4 separate regions of the Homo sapiens genome follow, and regions 2, 3 and 4 are each reported to be linked to region 1. The links are microRNA targets in miRTarBase. Many come from high-throughput screens and were not tested one by one. Region 1 holds a microRNA gene; each other region holds the end of a gene's coding sequence.
What was found. The annotated mature microRNA hsa-miR-26a-5p reads UUCAAGUAAUCCAGGAUAGGCU and lies in region 1 at 2,191-2,212, shown strand. An mRNA with a match to its seed (bases 2 to 7 or 8) in the 3' UTR can be bound and repressed. Matches are read on the target gene's strand: a 7mer-m8 pairs with bases 2 to 8, a 7mer-A1 pairs with bases 2 to 7 and ends in A, and an 8mer does both.

Region 2: miRTarBase lists BLOC1S2 as a target of hsa-miR-26a-5p. Seed matches in the 3' UTR shown: 8mer at 2,403-2,410.
Region 3: miRTarBase lists SLC25A30 as a target of hsa-miR-26a-5p. Seed matches in the 3' UTR shown: 7mer-m8 at 2,020-2,026.
Region 4: the mRNA of FUT8 is a reported target of hsa-miR-26a-5p. The part of its 3' UTR that is shown has no 7-base or 8-base seed match.

What each region holds. Positions count from the first base shown.
Region 1 is chr12:57,823,698-57,826,869 of GRCh38, reverse strand. It overlaps MIR26A2 (microRNA 26a-2), which reads left to right and starts at 2,178; the gene lies at 2,178-2,261. CTDSP2 (CTD small phosphatase 2) reads left to right here. Exons shown (of 8, transcript NM_005730.4): 5 at 468-524; 6 at 2,551-2,643; 7 at 2,781-2,966; 8 at 3,143-3,172.
Region 2 is chr10:100,272,827-100,275,998 of GRCh38, forward strand. It overlaps BLOC1S2 (biogenesis of lysosomal organelles complex 1 subunit 2), which reads right to left. Exons shown (of 5, transcript NM_173809.5): 5 at 467-2,667. The coding sequence ends at 2,636. Among named protein-coding and RNA genes, the nearest start is that of CWF19L1, 6.8 kb to the left of the region's middle.
Region 3 is chr13:45,393,089-45,396,260 of GRCh38, forward strand. SLC25A30 (solute carrier family 25 member 30) reads right to left here. Exons shown (of 10, transcript NM_001010875.4): 10 at 228-2,927. The coding sequence ends at 2,886. Among named protein-coding and RNA genes, the nearest start is that of SLC25A30-AS1, 23 kb to the right of the region's middle.
Region 4 is chr14:65,741,763-65,744,934 of GRCh38, forward strand. It overlaps FUT8 (fucosyltransferase 8), which reads left to right. Exons shown (of 11, transcript NM_001371533.1): 11 at 331-2,359. The coding sequence ends at 648. Among named protein-coding and RNA genes, the nearest start is that of MIR625, 270 kb to the left of the region's middle.

The DNA.
Region 1 (3,172 bases):
GGCATTTTGGCCACCCTGTGTCACAGGTATCTAGAGGCCCCACTGAAGAATGTTGAGTAGGAACCCTGTGTGTTCCACCAGGGCTGCTATCTCCAGTCACTCCCAACAGGCTGCATCTGCCCCCGAGCCACATAGCACAGAAAGCCAGCCACGAGGGCTCTGTACAGGGCAGGCCTAAAAGAGTGGTTGGATCACCTTTGGCCCTTGCCCCTGCTTGTCTCCTCAGGAAACTCAGGCCCCAAAACTCTCAGCCCAGGTAGAATTTGTCAGAGTGGAGGTGCTAAGGAGTAGGGAAAACCAGAATGGGGTATCACATCTTGAACTAGGGTGAGAACCCCTTAATGAGGTGGCCAGAGGCACTTCCAGGAGTCTTTAAGACCTGTTTCTCCCCACCCACCTAGGGGTATGGTGGGGGCCTCATGTTTCTTTGCCACCATGCTGACAGCATTAACTTTTCTGCCTTCCAGCCAATCAACAATGCTGACTTCATAGTGCCTATAGAGATTGAGGGGACCACTCACCAGGTGAGCTGCCAGCCAGACCACACCCAGCCCAGAGGGTGGGGGGTCTGCCTTCTGCCTCACCTGTACTGGGGTCCTCCACCCATCTCAGGGCTTGGGTTCTGTCAGTTGATCCCTTTTCTATAACTCCAGCCTCCCCTTTTTATTGGTATCTTTCACTCAAGGCTTTCTCACCTTAAAAAAAGAGTTTCAGCCCCATATCCCACCCAGCTGTCTCCCTTGTTTTCTCTTTGCAACCAAGCTGTTTAAAAGAATAGTTTACATTTTATTTAATAATAATAATAGCTATCGTTTGTTAACCACCATCCCCTCACGTGGCCAGCACTGTTAAATGATTTATTACATTTCTCTGTTCCTTAAGAAAGGTATCTATACCTGTTAAGATACCTTAACCAGGTATCTCTTTGCCTGTAACAGGCAGGGAAATCAGTAGTAACCATTTTCTCTGCCCGGAATGCCCTCTTGCCCATGCTCCCCCTGCCACCCCCACTGTGAATAGCTAGTGACTTTCTTCCTCCCCAGCCCAGACATCTCCTCCTCTGTGAAGCCTTCTCTGACTGCCTTCCCTGGGGCCCTCCATTGGATTCTGCCTGAGGAAGTGCTCAGTGTGTGTCTGTCAATGTAAAGAGCACTCAAATCTAAACAGACCAGGCTCCAGCCTGCAGCCCAGGCAGTCCCAGGTTAAGGATCATGTGACACTGCTAGTGAAAGACCATTTACTCAGCTTGCTTGCCCAGAAGGCCTGCCATGCCCAGCGCCAGGCCCCGGTCAGGACTAGGCTTGGTCCAGCAGCCCTTTGACAGTCTAGCTGAGGGTATAGGGATGTGCTAAACCCTTGTAGAAAAGATGAAGGCATATTTTCAAACAGATATACACTGTGAACTCCTGGCTAACAAGGAAGGGTATGAATAATTTTTAAAAGGATGAGATTAAAATGAGGGAGCACTACCTGCCCAAGGTGGGTGAAAGGATGCCAGACTTGATGAAAGCTGGGATGAGGAAGGGGCTTGTTGGAGGTCGAAGGAATGGCAGGCTAACAGAAGTTAAGTTGTGGCTGCCTAGAACAGAGGGTTCCTGCAGAGCTCTGAGTGGTCTGGTGAGTTGGTGGCCAGTTCAGGCCTACTCTAGGAGGGAGAGTCACAGCAGGCCGACTCTCTTTGAGCTCGGGAGTAATGCAGGTAAAGGAGCTTTGGGAGTCAGGTGCCGTGGCTTACACCTGTCATCCCAACACTCTGGGAGGCCAAGGCAGGAGGAATGCCTGAGCCCACAAGTTCACAACCAGCCTGGCCTCACATAGCAAGACCCCATCTCTAAAAAAAATAAGTAAATAAAGAAAAGAAAAAGGACCTTTTTGGAAATGGTTCTAGTAGCAGCTGTGTAGGCTAGAGTCATGGAAGCAATAGAATGCAGACCGATGGGGGGTCAGGTGGCCAAAGGACTTCCCAAAATGTGCAAGATCGTAAGGGTGGACAAAGGTGTTAGTGGTGGCTGGCAGAAGCAAGCACAAGATCGGGTGCAGAGCAAGACTCGGCAGGGTGTCTGTCTAGTCTATGGTCATTGAGGGGAAAAAGTCACTTCTCCCTGGTGCAATTCATTACCTAATCATGACCTGGACAGACTGTCCTGTCGGAGCCAAGGACAGAAAGCTCCCATAGAGGCTGTGGCTGGATTCAAGTAATCCAGGATAGGCTGTTTCCATCTGTGAGGCCTATTCTTGATTACTTGTTTCTGGAGGCAGCTGATGGTCCGCCGCCGGAAACAGAGATGGCTCCTGGGACATGGTGTGTGCGCTTCTTCCTGAGCCAGGTTGAGGTTGGGACCACTGATCCATTGGAAGCCTGGTGAGGGGTACAGCCAGTTCTCCGGGTCTGTGGGGTCTCAGGGGGCCGCAGGCTTCCAGCCAGGTAGCCCAGGAGGCTGGGCTGCAGGGGTTGAGAGCTCCTTGCTGCTGTGTAACTGGTGAAGGTACCCAGTACTGCAAACCTTCATCACAGGGATGCCTCCAACAGGCTGCTCTGCTCTTCCTCAGGTGTATGTGCTCAAGAGGCCTTATGTGGATGAGTTCCTGAGACGCATGGGGGAACTCTTTGAATGTGTTCTCTTCACTGCCAGCCTGGCCAAGGTACCTAGGGGTGAGAGGGAAGAACCAGGAGTGGGTGTGGTGGCCACGGGGGTGGTCCAGCAGCTCCCTTTTGGTCCCTAGGGTTATACAGGAGGACCAGGAGTGTATCCAAACTAAGGCATCTTCTCTCCTCCTAGTATGCCGACCCTGTGACAGACCTGCTGGACCGGTGTGGGGTGTTCCGGGCCCGCCTATTCCGTGAGTCTTGCGTGTTCCACCAGGGCTGCTACGTCAAGGACCTCAGCCGCCTGGGGAGGGACCTGAGAAAGACCCTCATCCTGGACAACTCGCCTGCTTCTTACATATTCCACCCCGAGAATGCAGTGAGTGCTCCTGATGCGTCTCCACGGTAGGGATTGGGAGAGGAAGCAGACTGGAACTGTGGGCTCCACCAGAGAAGTACACCCCTCCAGGAAGACCCAGCCACCCTCTAGGGCTCTGGGGCGAGGGAGGGGGAAGCAGCAGTCGGGAGATTGACACCACATCTTCCCCCCACCAGGTGCCTGTGCAGTCCTGGTTTGATGACATG
Region 2 (3,172 bases), not on the chromosome of region 1:
CACAATAGCTAAAATATGGAATCAACCTAAGTGTCCATCAATGGATGAATGGGTAAAGAAAATGTGGTATATATACACAATGGAATATTGTTCAGCCATAAAAGGAATGAAATTCTGTCATTCTCAGCAACATGGATGAAACTGGAGGTGATTGTGTTAACTGAACTAAGCCAAGCACAGAAAAGACAAATATTACATGTTCTCACTCACATGTGGGAGCTAAAAAAGTGGATCTCATGGAGATGGAGGTAGATTGGTGGTTACCAGAGGCCAGGAAAGGTGGTGGGGACGTGAGGATGAAGAGTTTGATTAGTGGACACAAATACAGAAGAAATAAGACCTATGATAGATCAGTAGAGTAACTATAGCTAATGTTAATCTATTGTACATTTCAAAATAGGTAAAAGAGAATAATTCAAATAATGTTCCTAGCATAAAGACAAGATAAATATTAAGGTGAAGGACATCCCAATAACTCTTGATTTAATATTTACACATTATATACATGTATTAAATTATCACTTGTACTCTGAAAATACATACATCTATTACACATCAATAAAAAAACTCATCCATTAAATTCTGTATTATCTTTGCAACTTTCCCGTAAATCTAAATCTATTTTCAAAAAGTTTATGAAAACTCATCCATGGGAATTTAAGGTGGCTGAAGATAGCTGAACACAGTGTAACAGGAAATAAAAACTTTTTAAAAATAGATCAACATGGCTGGGTGCGGTGGCTCACACCTGTAATCCCAGCACTTTGGGAGGCCGAGGTGGGTGGATCATTTGGGGTCAGGAGTTCGAGACCAGCCTGGCCAACATGGTGAAACCCCGTCTCTACTAAAAATACAAAAATTAGCCTGGCATGGTGGTGGGCACCTGTAAATCTCAACTACTCGGGAGGCTGAGGCAGGAGAATCGCTTGAACCCAGGAAACAGAGGTTGCAGTGAGCTAAGATCGCACCACTGCACTCCAGCCCAGGCGACAGAGCAAGACTTCATCTCAAAAAAAAAAAAAAAATAGATCAATACATGCACGGAAAAGGAAAAGGGTTGGAAGAAGGGGTAAGACTGATTCTATGTTAAGATAGTAGAGTTACAGTTTAATTCTTTTGTTTTTTATTTAAGAAAAATGTTTAAATAGGGGCCTTATGTTAGGCACGGTGGTTCATGCCTACAATCTCAGCACTCTGGCAGGCTGTGGTAAGAGAATCACTTGAGGCCAGTTCAAGACCAGCCTGGACAACATAGTGAGACTCCATCTGTATAAAAAATAATTAGCAAGGCATGGTGGAGCGTGCTGGTAGTCCCAGCTATTCAGGAGGCTGAGGTGGGAAGATCAGTTGAGCCTAGGAGGTCAAGGTGAGCTATTATCACACCACCACACTCCAGCCTGGGTGACAATAGAGACCCTGTCTATAAACAAACAAAAAAACACAAGGGACTTGTATGCATAATGAAAGTCTAGATTTTTCAGAGGCCATGATAAGTCACTACAGGGTTCTAAGCAGGAGTAATAGGGCCAGTTTACATTTTTAAGATTGCTCTGGCAGCAGTGTGGAGGGTGGTTGGAAGGGACAGTTAAGATGAGAAGAGACCACAGCAACAGTCCAGGAAGAACAGAGGATAAATGATGACTGTCTGGAACAGAGGGGAAATGACAGAAACAGAAGTAAGAAACTCTTTGGGATATGTAATTGGGGACCTCAGACACCTTCCCAGCTGCTAATGTTGTGTTCTGGGTAAGGCTGCCTATCTTTCAACCTAGACTGGTCAGTCAGTATGTCCCATTGTCTGATGTTTTTAGTGTGCAAAGAAGTCGATTAGGTCCCTAAGATCCCCCCAAATCCTACATACACAGTAGGAAGGTATTTTATAAAATCCTTTATTTTATGAGTGGCAATCGTCACCTCCCTACCCAACACATAAACACACATACCCATCTAGTCTTTGTTTTCATCACATTTCCCAAACTGATCGCATGTCAATGTGACTCACATAGAAAATAAACAAGAGGGGCCCATCACATACGCCAAGTTATCAATACTCCTTTCACCATTTCTGCTCAATCTAGAAGACTCAGCTTGGAATTATTTTAAGATTTTATGTTATTTGCAATATTATGGAAAAGTAAGTTACCGACATTCACAAGGTGATAAGCTGCAAAGAACAAGTTTGTTTTGTTTTCCTTTTTAAATTTAGAATCTTGTTTACAACACATTAGCATCATTAACAGAAAAACGACCATTTACATAGTAACTAAAAAACCAGCCACTTAAGAAAATAATGTAGTAATCAACCACTACCAGAGAAAATAGGTCCTCTCATTTGATTTTACTGGTAAGTCCAGCTGTTTTCTGAACTTTGTGAGAGTCTCTGTCCTGAATATGGCAAAGCATTCAAGTAAAAGGTAGGAAGTTATAAGTGTGAGATTCTGAGGGATTCTGTCTCAAAGAAGGTTCAGGAATAGCCACAGTCCTCCAGTTTACTCGAACGTTGAGATGTTCCTGTGATGACCAGCATAATTTCCTTTTGAGGAATTTTCACAATTCATCAGCCTCAGGATTCAGGTTTTATAAGACATTCTTCCACATTAAAAAAAAAAGACTCTGTCCCATAGAAATAAGTTTCTCATCGCTTCTCCAGCTTCTTGTACTTGGCTTCTGTGAGGGATGAGGGAGAGTTACATCTTTTAAAACTGGCTCTTACAAAGACAGTTTTTAGTTAGCATTTCCAGTCAAGTTTAAAAAATATGTATAATATTACTAAAAATCTATTAGCTTCAATCTCATCATCTGTCCAAATATACGGATCACTGATCTGTAAAACTTGGAATAAGAATTCAAGCACAGACACTCAGAACTGAGAGCCTAACACAGGTTCACGAAGTCCTCACCCTGTCAACAGCACCTACTTAGACAGCTCCACCAGGATGGGGCACATCTGTCACTTGACCTATCGGGAGCCTTACTAAAAAACTGCCTCTCTCAGCACTGTCCCAGGTGCCCTCTGGAACCAGACTGGAACCCTCAGGAAGTATAAATGTATGTTTCCTCCTGTATGTTCTTATCCTTACACCTTACTCCAGGAAAGCAATTTTGAAAGATACAGATATTTAAAAGGCCATCAAATAAGCCTCTTACTCTGACATTCCGTTTTTCTATTAAA
Region 3 (3,172 bases), not on the chromosome of region 1:
GGCCTCGACTGAGCTGCCAAGTATTTCATACATGGGGAGGGGGGTTGGGGGGGGGGAGGGTAGGGGGATCACACAGGTGCCAGGCAATGAGTAAGATTATCCCAGCAACTTCTCCATGCAGAGAGAAATGTCTGCAGCTGCAACACTATTTCTACTCCAGCCTTCTAGACTCCATGTAGTTTGCCTTTGTTTGAATGTTTCTATTTATCTGAAATAACCAGAAATCATTTTTATTATTATATATTACTCCAGTTTATTAAATAAATGAAACAAGGCTTATGCCACATATTCCAACAATGTTTAAATAAAGAGCTTGAAATATAAAGGCTTATGAAAACTTCATACTCTTTATATAATGCATACTATTTCTAGCACATGAATAAATATAAAGGACAGGAGCCACTTTTTATATTATGAATCCACAACATTAAGCATCAATGATTACACAAATCCATAAGCACACAAACAAAAAAACCCATTGGTTATAAAAACTAGAATTCCTTTTGGCATATTTAAGAAAACCCAAAGGTGGGGAGGTACTTATAGCCAGAACCCTGACAACGAGGGGACCAAGTCTCCCAATTCCTTAAGTTGTTTCTTGGTTAGAAGCTTCAACAATTGCATTAACTCTTTCAAAAAAACAGAAAAAGCAGGTTAAGATCCTGTTCAATAAGGCACTTAATAAGTCTACACTGAAGAAATACTATGCTTTTATCTTAAATCGTGCTTAAGTTTTACCATGAGGTTTGAATTTCTTTCCACCTTGGTAGGAACATGTATGTAATTTGAATAAACTGGTAATAATACTGTCTGACATTCGCTCTTTACATGGTCATTAAAATGAATTTGCTTCTACTGTTTTAAAAATTGTATGCATATTTGAAAAAGTAAAATTTTTCTACATTAAAAAAAGAGCATTTCAAGAAAAGCAATCTTTAAACTCAAAGAACTCAAAAGTGAAAGCCTCTCTATAGAAAGTCTTTATAAAATCAATGGAATGTTTTGGAAAGAAGAAAAAATCCTAAGGTGTAGTTTAGAACAAGCAGCAAGGCCTGAATGAGCTCTGGGGTCCTCTGCTGCCCTCTAGGGTTGCCCAGGGAGAGCTGGACTTTCATCTGAGTCTCAGCAATTAACAGGTAACCCTACCCCACTGCACCCCGCCCCCGCCCCCACCTTCTGTTATCCTCTCTTTTTGATGACTTTGTCTTAGCTCTCACTTTTGGAAATAATATTCAAAGGGACCATTCATGCATAAGGAAGGCAAGGGAAAAATGCCTGCGAGGAAAAATTATCTCATCCTCCAAAAAAACCTGCAGTCCTTCTATTCAGTCTCAACAAAGAGACTGGCCAGACTGGGAATTTGGCCGCACTACTGTGGAAGGAGAATGCCCTGGAGCCCCAGCTAACATGTATTTAATGTTGTTCTCAAAGGGGGAACTGAAGAGACCCAAATAAATATGTTCCCTGTCCTGTGGCTGCCTCCCAGAAGTGGAAGTTCTTGGGGTTCTCACAGTCATCTTTTATTTTGAAAAGACTAAGATGAAGACAAGAAGGAAGAGGGCTCTTTCTCTGAAGCAGGTTAGAGTAAAGAATAAGAAAATAGAAAAAGAAAAAAAGAAGAGGGAGAATGACTTATTGTGTCTACAGAAGGAAAGAAAAAGGGAAAATATTACATACCACCTATCAGAAACTAGCTAAATAGATGCACTAAAGAAATCATTTTTAAAATTTCAAGCAGGTATTTTCCATCCAAACTAAACAGAAAGTCCAAGACAGGCACAACATAAACTAAAGTAAAAACTGGAAACCTGGAAAAATCAACTCTTTGATTCACTACCAACATTTTGCTAAGGAAAATGTACTAAAGCCTGAACTTATACAGTGTTCTTTCTTCAACAAGACCTTAACAAAGGGCTTCATTCACAATTACCATGAGAAGCCCATGAGAACATGCCCCTCTTCTACATAGACTGTTTAGAGCTGTTCCACAGCATGATGTAAACACATTTACCTTTCCAGTCAAGTAGCAGCAGCTACTATTTGTTCTTCATTTGACCCTCTACATCAATAGACGTTATTATCCCCATTTTACTCATTGAGAAATACATATGCTTTGCTAAAAATCATAAAGCTAATTACTAACATGACCTAAGACAGAACCTAAGCTGCTTGAAAACACCCCCCACCAATACAGACCTTGCAACCTTCAAAGCCAACACATAACACCACCACGAATTTAGAGATTATTACTTTGTAACAATTTCTCACAAATGTCAAGTCTTCAAAGCTTAAAATCACTTATTATAAGTGGAAGATCCTGCCAAAATAGGAAATGATAAAGCAGTGTGATATTCCTAGGATCCATTTCCTGCACCGTTTATACCTGGGGTTGAACAGTCCAGGTCTCCATACATGAAATTTCTTCAGTTGACAAGGAGCAAAATCTCCCAGAAATTCAGAAACCATAACACCTTCTCGGAGGCTCCATTCCATGGTTCCAGTGAGCTTTTCTAGAGCAGTCTGATTCTCAGTCATGAGCTGAGATGCATCAGGAGCTACTCTCCCTGAATAAAACAATACATCGCTCCTGATTTTCTTGCAAGTTTTCTTTAGCAAGAAACATGCATTTCACATATTATCTTTGATGTTGAAGGGCACTTCAGTGGTAAAGACTAGTGTTTGGATGTTAGTTTATGCCATTAAACGTTTGATGAAGAGCATCCAATGCCAACACACAGCAATCTCAACTAACCCAGTCTTCATCTGTTGCTCACATCCCAGAATCTGTGATGAGCCAAGCAGTGAGAAGCAGAGTGAAACACAGGAAGCTTTGCTGTTTCAGAAGTTACCATTTTCAGAAAGATGTCTCATGCAGCCTTGGCTTGTCACAAATCCAATTTCTTCAACTGCTCGTATGTCACAAAGAACTGTGGTTATGGGTTAAGGATGACACAGAAAATGCCATCTTCACAACTCCAGTGCATAACAACAGACTTACAAATGGCACACTTAATAACAAATAGGTACAGGCAGACCCACGCTATGGACACGATTAAATAAAAGGGGTTCCACCCTTAACCACATCAAACTATCTTCCAAGGTCAGCTTGGAGCAGAAAGATCACAGCTGAGATATGTAAATCCCCTGGTATCAGCCTCTTCTGAGATGGCAT
Region 4 (3,172 bases), not on the chromosome of region 1:
GGACCACTGTGTATGTAGCTCTTAATAAATGTTTGTTAAAATTAACTAATTCATATTCTTAAATTCTTTTGTACTATATAGAGATAGAGAGATTTTAATTGTAATAATCTTTCGTGAGTTTTTCTTCTTTATTTGAAAAAGGATCCAGACACAGAGATGAAGAATGACTTGTACCATCTTCTGAGAACAAATGGACTGAAAGCTTGTGACTAGAATCCACTACTTTTCAACCTCTTACTCCTAGAGCCCATCCTTTTGGCCAAGGGCTTTTAGATTGCTGTGAAGGAGAGTGTTTATATACTAACAATTTCTTTTAAATTCTTTCCCAAGGTCTGTCGAGTTGCTTATGAAATTATGCAAACACTACATCCTGATGCCTCTGCAAACTTCCATTCTTTAGATGACATCTACTATTTTGGGGGCCAGAATGCCCACAATCAAATTGCCATTTATGCTCACCAACCCCGAACTGCAGATGAAATTCCCATGGAACCTGGAGATATCATTGGTGTGGCTGGAAATCATTGGGATGGCTATTCTAAAGGTGTCAACAGGAAATTGGGAAGGACGGGCCTATATCCCTCCTACAAAGTTCGAGAGAAGATAGAAACGGTCAAGTACCCCACATATCCTGAGGCTGAGAAATAAAGCTCAGATGGAAGAGATAAACGACCAAACTCAGTTCGACCAAACTCAGTTCAAACCATTTCAGCCAAACTGTAGATGAAGAGGGCTCTGATCTAACAAAATAAGGTTATATGAGTAGATACTCTCAGCACCAAGAGCAGCTGGGAACTGACATAGGCTTCAATTGGTGGAATTCCTCTTTAACAAGGGCTGCAATGCCCTCATACCCATGCACAGTACAATAATGTACTCACATATAACATGCAAACAGGTTGTTTTCTACTTTGCCCCTTTCAGTATGTCCCCATAAGACAAACACTGCCATATTGTGTAATTTAAGTGACACAGACATTTTGTGTGAGACTTAAAACATGGTGCCTATATCTGAGAGACCTGTGTGAACTATTGAGAAGATCGGAACAGCTCCTTACTCTGAGGAAGTTGATTCTTATTTGATGGTGGTATTGTGACCACTGAATTCACTCCAGTCAACAGATTCAGAATGAGAATGGACGTTTGGTTTTTTTTTGTTTTTGTTTTTGTTTTTTCCTTTATAAGGTTGTCTGTTTTTTTTTTTTTAAATAATTGCATCAGTTCATTGACCTCATCATTAATAAGTGAAGAATACATCAGAAAATAAAATATTCACTCTCCATTAGAAAATTTTGTAAAACAATGCCATGAACAAATTCTTTAGTACTCAATGTTTCTGGACATTCTCTTTGATAACAAAAAATAAATTTTAAAAAGGAATTTTGTAAAGTTTCTAGAATTTTATATCATTGGATGATATGTTGATCAGCCTTATGTGGAAGAACTGTGATAAAAAGAGGAGCTTTTTAGTTTTTCAGCTTATTTACTTTGTTTTTTTTCCTGTTTCTGATATAGTAACTAATTCTTAACTCAGAGACATTGGTCCATTTTAATACTGAAAACCAATTTTCATTGGTACACATTACAAAATTGCTAAGAACACTGTTTGGGAGCTTTCATTCTCATATTTTGGACATTGTTTTAATTGAGTGAAATAATCATAACTCCTTGCTCCCAGAGAAGCTATCACCTCCATTTCTAAAACCATTTCAGGTTTGTTTGGTAGTCTTTCTTAATGTATTTATTATCGCTTTTTGTGAGTAGGGTCCTGTTTTATCCAGGAACCAATTTCTGCCCTAGCCTATCATGCCCTGCTTTTGAGAGTACCAGGTATCTTTGGGATTGGGAAGCTGGCTGTTTCAGAAGTATATGTCTCATAGTGTGCAGAACTTGGTGACCAAGTGAGAAGCGGGACCAATGGGAGACTCACAATGGACTGAGTCTTGGGATTATCTTTTCCAAATTCTTCCATGTTAGAATCACTTCAGAAAATAAGACTTTGATGCTTTGTCTCTGAGCATCATTTTTCTCCTCATAAAAACACTTCCTTATTGTATGTAGCCTGCCTCCTACAGAGGCCTGGTAGGTGTTACTGCATTCTAAAAGAAAAATGTCATCTCTGTAGGAGCGACTATCAGGCCTAGTGTGAAATATTAGGGATCCTAGGCAGAAGAGCTATTAGTCCTGGCCTTCATATCTTCACCAAATGAAAATACTGTATATAAAATTTCACCACCAAACTTAACTAAATTCTTTTTCTCAAGTCAAGCCTCCCAAAGAAAAAAGAAATTAACTTCCTACAGTGTCAGCAAGCAATTTTCCATTTAGTTTTGGTACAAATAAAAGTCATTTGAAACAATCTCCAACTGAGCGGAGGTAATTTTGATTATGAGTTATTTTGCAACTCGCATCTCACATGTCATTGGAACATCAGTAACTGTGGATCTGATTTGTGCCCTTATAGAAGATCCAAAGGTAAATTAAGTTAGTCTCTTTTCCTTCTAAATTGACCGAGTTCCAGGGGTGAAAGGACCAAAGAACAGAGATACGAAGGAAATAAATTAAGGAGTATTTCCCAAAGGGAGTCTTCAACTGAAGAGTTAATTTTTGACATTTTATCATTTGGTTCTAGAATTTCTCCCTAATTCTTTATATTTCTCTACTGAGATTTTTTTATTCACTACATGCATGTTTTCATTGAACATAACTATGTAGTGAATAAAACTATGAACCTTGAACATAACAGATGAACATAACTATGAACATAACCGAACAAAACATTGAACATAACTATATAGTGAATAAAAAAATTATTTGTTCTCAGTAGAGAACACATAAATAAAAAAATTATGTGTTCTCAGTAGAGAACACATAACTATGTTCAATGAGTTTAAATTATGCTTTAAAATTCTTTTCTGGTAAATTTGACATCTGGATAATCTTAGAATTGGTCTCCATTGTTCCTCTTTACAGAATGGTCAGATTTTGGGGGGAGGTCCCTCATATATTGAGTGATTTAGATTGTGTCCTGAACATTGTAATGTTTATGTTGTAGATTCTGTTATATTGCTCTGAAAAGTGCTGTGATATATACATATACACACATAAATATACATATACACAAAAATATATATATACAACATTTGTGTATTACATTTGTGTGTATATATAG